Linked DNA regions of Homo sapiens: region 1 is linked to region 2. Evidence: fine-mapped expression QTL. A gene starts in region 2. The other region holds a variant in brackets. All regions are shown on one strand. Distances are between the middles of the regions.

The links.
Region 1: its variant is fine-mapped to the expression of LINC00941 in fibroblasts (GTEx, PIP above 0.99).

The regions. Positions count from the first base shown.
Region 1 is chr12:30,694,910-30,697,808 of GRCh38, forward strand. IPO8 (importin 8) reads right to left here and starts at 960. Exons shown (of 25, transcript NM_006390.4): 1 at 655-960. The coding sequence starts at 738. RefSeq lists a silencer at 710-759 and an enhancer at 850-1,349. The variant G/A (reference allele first, on the strand shown) is at 1,608.
Region 2 is chr12:30,793,958-30,796,856 of GRCh38, forward strand. It overlaps LINC00941 (long intergenic non-protein coding RNA 941), which reads left to right and starts at 1,724. Exons shown (of 5, transcript NR_040245.1): 1 at 1,724-2,259. RefSeq lists enhancers at 10-511, 512-1,011, 1,514-2,013, 2,014-2,515.

The sequences.
Region 1 (2,899 bases), 99 kb before region 2:
GAGACGGAGAAAAGAAAGAAGTCTTACACATTTTAGCATTCATAAGAAATTTCTCCAACACATCTTACTTTGATGTGTCTTAGATAAAGCAGTATCACCATGAAAACTGCCTATTCTTCCCAGAGCACTCTCCCAACAGCACTGCCCAGCGCTCCGCAAAACTCGGCCAATCGGTGTCAAAACAGTCCTGCCAACCCGACAGGAGGAGGCGGTGGGCAGCGTGCTCCACAGCAACACCTAAAAAGGGCTGGGTTTGGAAAAAAGCTGAACTCAGATTTGAACTGTAAGTAAAATTCCCACCTGCTCCCCAAGTCCGCGCACTTAAGGAAAATAAATCACACCCTGAAAACACTAGCACAGGTTGCAAAAACTGCTTCTTGCGGACCAAGTAGGCAGAACAAACTGCCCTGGAGAAGGGAGACGACACGAAAAGGTGCAAAGGTGGCCAACAGGTGCGCGAGCTGTTCGGCAAAGATCCTGGGAGCCCTGCTCCACTGGACCGGGGGGCAGCGGGGTCGGAGAGCGGGACCAGCCGTGAGGCGTCAGCCCCAGCCCGGTGGGGGTGAGGACGAGGGGCGCCGGGGAGAGGGAGCCCGGCCAGCCGGCAGGGGCGCCCCTTCGGCGGAAGAGGGTCGCCGAAGACCCTCTCCTCACCTGGTTGAGCTCGTTCTCGGCTGCAATCCGCAACTTCGGGTCGATGGTGCCCTTCAGCGCCTGGATGATCCGGTTGAGGTCCATCTCCCCGGGTGGGGGCTCCGCGGCCCCCGGAACAGTAGGCCGGACTGCAGCTTTAGTTTTCTTTTGACCCTCTCAGCCTCCTCTTCCGCGACCCCTGGATTACCTCACACCCCACCCCCCGCCACCGTCGCCACCTGCGGCCACTTGCTGCGCCACTCTGACTCCGCGCCCCCTGTCCTCCCTTTTTCCCCCCCACAACTCGCTCTCCATTCACCGTTTTACGACAGCCGGTGGGAGGCGGGAGAAGGAAGAAGAGGAAGCAGAGCTTCCTTTACGGCGGCCTCTTCCCCCGGGCGTGATGCTATGACCGCCTCCCGTCGGCGGCCGCCATGCTGCTGTACGGAAAACGGCCTAGGCTTCTTTCCCGGAAAGGAACCCGCGCTCCCGAACTCAGGCAGGCGGCCGCTATGCTTCCGTACGGTAAACAGCCTCCCGCCTCTTCCCAGGTGAGGAAACTTGAGCTGGCCGGGAGTCTGCTTACAGCTGCTTCCAAATTAAGCATATCTGGATGGTGTGACACTTTTTGTTAGTCCGAGAACTGTATGGGCATCGCAACTGGGCCTGTTCCAAGATAGACTTGTTGGGACCTTCAAATCATGTACCTTACAGGAGGACAGGGTTCCTCCGTGTGTGGGAGTCATCGTTCATTCATTCATTCGCTTTCACTGAACATTTGTTAAACATATATTTTTGAACCAGAGTACTAGGATTTTTAGGTACCACATTATAACAAGATGAATTCCATGCAAGTTAATGTGAAGGAATTCACAACCTGATAGATGAGACAAATATAAACAAAAAAAATTTACAGTGTAGAAATGATAGGGGAGTGCTGGGAAGGGAAGAGCGTGGTCCCTTTAAATGATAGG[G/A]ATGGGCGAAGTGAAGTGCTGGGTAGAGGAGTGTGTGGTCCCTTGCTAGGGCTCCACGCCCACCGACCTAGGTGAGGACTGACACTCCTGCCTTCCAGCCCAAATGTTGCATTTCCCAAGACCACCCTGGCCTGCCACTCCCCCATACTGTGCCTATGAAAACCCCAGACCCTAGCAGGCAGGTACACAGGCAGCCAGACGTCCAGAGGAGCATAAGGGTGGAAGAAGAGGAGCTCGCTGGCACATCCGCAGGCCATTCACGGGCAGAACGATGCGGAGGTTGGCCTGGGCAGTCGGAAAAGAGCCCGGGCCGCCAAGCGGCCTAACTCCAGAGGAAAACCATTTCCCTTCTGGGTCCCTCATCTGCTGAGGGCTACTTCCACTCAATAAAACTTTGCACTCATTCTCCAAGCCCACGTGTGATCCAATTCTTCTGGTACACCAAGGCAAGAACCCAGGATACAGAAAGCTCGCTGTCTGTGCGACAAGGTAGAGGGTCTAATTGAGCTGGTTAACACAAGCCCCCTAAAGGCAAACTGAAAGAGCATCCTGTAACACACACCCACTGGGGCTTCAGGAGCTGTAAACATTCACCCCCAGACTCTGTCAAGGGGTCGGAGCCCCACAGCCTGCCGGTCTGTATGCTTCTCTAGAGGTCTGAGCAGCGGGGCACTGAAGAAGCGAGCCACACCCCCAATGCACGCCCTGTGAGGGGGACAAGGGAACCTCTCCCATTTCAGAAAGACAAAGGTCACAGAAACTGAAAACTACATCCCTGAGAGTTTTATGAAAAATTTTCAGACCTTCTCAAAAATGTAGTGAAAGGTAAGCAGAAAAGTTATACTGTTTCTATCCACTGTGGCCATATCTGGCGCCACAATTTCAATGGCATGAAAATATCAAGGAGCTGGTTCTTCCTGAGGTTAACCCAGAAGAGAGGGTTCTAATTACATTTAATAAAGATGATGATGTGGGCAAAACACAGCTGAGGGGCTGTGATCTTTTCAGGAGCAGATAATTAAGATAGATTGGGTCAATTAACTGAGTTCAATTGAGAGAGTAGAAAACATGTGGCTGAAAACTTGGTGGCTTGAAAGCTTCCCCCTCAGTTGGATGCAAAAGTGCTTCACAGTGAATTTAACATGTCTAATTGCTTCCAGTATTGCCCCTCTTTAATCCATTATTCACACTATCATCAGAAGAAAGTTTCTGAAAAGTTAATATTACTATGTCTCTTCCTTGATTTCTCATCAATTTCAAAATAAAATATAAACTTAGCACTCCAGAGTCTT
Region 2 (2,899 bases):
CAGTGAGCTGAGATGGCACCACTGCGCTCCAGCCTGGGTGACAGAGCGAGACTCTGTCAAAAAAAAAAAAAAGGGTAGAGTAAGAAGAAAGAAGAGTGGAAGATTGCAGACAAATATGGCCAGCAAGCATCTCTCTCCAGCCCTCTCTGGAGCCACGCTGTGCCCCTGCTCATGACTTTCAGTTGCTTCACTATGCAATGAAAGTCAAAGCCCAGTTCCCATGCCACACACAGAGGAGTCCCTATCTCCTTTTCTGGCATCTTTTCTCACATTCCTGCCACACAGATTCTCCACTCTAGCCACATACCTTATCCTGTCCCACCCAAGGACCTTGGCTTCTACCATCCGGAAGTCTTCTGCCAACCCCAGGGCTGTCCAAATGCCTTTTCTTTTTCTTTTCTCTTTTTTTTTTTTTTTTTTTTTGGAGACAGAGTTTTGCTCTCGTTGCCCAGGCTGGAGTGCAGTGGCGCCATCTTGGCTGACTGCAACCTCCGCCTCCTGGGTTCAAGCGATTCTCCTGCCTCAGCCTCCCAAGTAGTTGGGATTACAGGTACCCACCACCACGCCCAGCTAATTTTTTGTATTTTTTTTAGCAGAGACAGGGTTTCATCGTGTTGGCCAGGCTGGCCAGGCTGGTCTGGAACTCCTGAAGTTAGGTGATCCACCCACCTCAGCCCCTCAAAGTGCTGGGATTACAGGCGTTATCCACTGCGCCCCACCCCAGATGCCTTTTCTATGAAGTATATCCCAGTTGGAAGTAATTTTTGTTTACCCTGGATTTCTGTACATTCACTGATTGTGCAAAGAGCTTGCCACAGGCGGCCTTGCAAGATAGTTCTCTACCTTCAAGCCTTACTTCCTCCGAAATGAGTTAGGTCCCATGACATTAGAGCCTTCGGGATATTTCTGTACAGTTCTAGTTCCTAGCATAGCGCCTTGTATTCTTTAGGTACCTGACAAATGGCCACCAACCCTCCACCGGAGAGGACTTTTTACCAAGCCTGCAGGAAGGGCCAGCTAGGCAGGCGTCTCCCTGCTTTGCCCAACAGTGAAAGTCACAGCACATTTCTCAATATTATTCACGTTAAAAACATCTTTTTCCTGCTAAATAGACACACTCTCCACCCTCTTTTAGTCAATCTTCCACAAAATTAGATAAGGAGAAATAACCCTTTGTTTCACATCCGCTGACTCAGATACGAGCATTATTCAACTGGGCGGGGGTGGCAGTGGATGGGAGGGGGCTGAGCAAACTACAAGTGGAGGAAGAAGAGGACAGCCTAGGAGAGGGAGGGCAGAAGAAAGGAGAGCACATTGTGCAGGGGCACAGTGTTTTGCTGCTCCTTTTTTTCTTTCTTTTCTTAATATGGTCCTGGCTCACAGCAAGGCCACTACCTGACAAGCAGATGAGTCACTTCCTATGGGCACAGCGGGGGTACAACTTGATAGCTACAAAACCAGACAACCTCTCGCCATGCGCTCACCCTGTTCCCAGACCCGGGTGGTGGTCTGGGGGGTTGGAAGGGGCGGGAAGGGCGCTGTCTTAAGAATCATCCTCACATCTCAGGGCTTCGCCCCTCGAGGGAGGTGACCCTTGGCCACCCTCTGCGCAGTTCTCCCTGAAAGGTCATGCCACGTCTTAGCACTCTGGTCCCTGCGCCCCTGCAGGCCTCGCGGATCCCCCACTTGTCTCGACGCAGGGGACGCCCACTTGTCTGACGCAGGGGACGTGGCTGAAGTCAGTCGGGCCGCCCGCTTGCTGCACGGCAGCCGTGGGACTGGCACAGGCTCCTCGGCAGCATTATGGGCAGCTGGTAGAGCGGCCACTTCTGAGAGCCGGATGGGCCTTCCGAGGTCGGGCCGTGCCCCGCTGGGCAGCGCAGAGGGGGTGTGTAGGGCACGCGACTTGGAGCCAGGTCCAGACCCATCCTGGCTCCTCTCAGGGCTCCTTCCCCTGCCCCCATTCCACCCCAGCCCTGCTGGCTGTCCCGCAGGACCCAGCGCCGCGGTAGCCTTCTCTGAACTGCGGCTCAGGCGGAGGTGTCACTCCTGCCTCCAGCCCAGGAGGGCAGGTCAGGTTATGCAACGCGTGCCGCGCGATCTCCCCCCACCTCCAACCCCCTTTTCTCCCGGGTCCACACCGCAGTTCCCACCGCTCCGGGTGTCCTCCCCAGTGCGCCGCGATTTTTGTGTCCAAGCCCCAGAGTCCCTCTGAGACCAACCCCCAGCCAGCACAGACTTCCTGCCTTCCCAGCTCGGGTGAGTAGCCCTGAAACGCCCGCCCCCGCCGCCCCGCGGCCGCAGCATCCTCTCGATGGCCGCGCCTCCGGGACGACGTGGTCCCCTCGAGTAGTACAGGAGCTGCAAGAGAGGCGCGCCGGGGCCAGCAAGCTCTAGAACAGCAGGAGCGGCCCCAGTTGGGACCCCGGGACGACGAGTGGCCGGCAACGCGGCGCCCGCATGGCCCAAGCAGTGTCCGGGAGGGGTCGGGGCCCCGGACTAGGGGCGCAGCGAGGACCGCCCGGAGGCTTTCCCTTGGGCAGCTAAGTCCGAGTCAGCTCTACTCGGATTTCCAGCTTCCAGCCCCGGCTCTGGTGGGGACCATGCCTAGGAGAGTAATCTGAGCTGGGGACTGGGCTCTCCTCCCGCCCCTCCCGGCCCGTGCGCCCCAGGCATGCGCTCCTCCCGCTGCTCCCTTGGCCCCCAGCGCACAGCTCCAAACCCGCGGGGCGAGCCGTCACCTTACTCTCTAGCCTTAGCCGGCCCCCAAATTTAATTTCTGCCCTGGCCGTCAAGCCATAAAAGTCGATTATAATCGCCGCCCCCCCCCGACCACCCCAACCCCCTGCCTTTGCTCTCGCCCCCGTTTCAGACTTCTCTTCTCTTCTTGAAGTCAAGC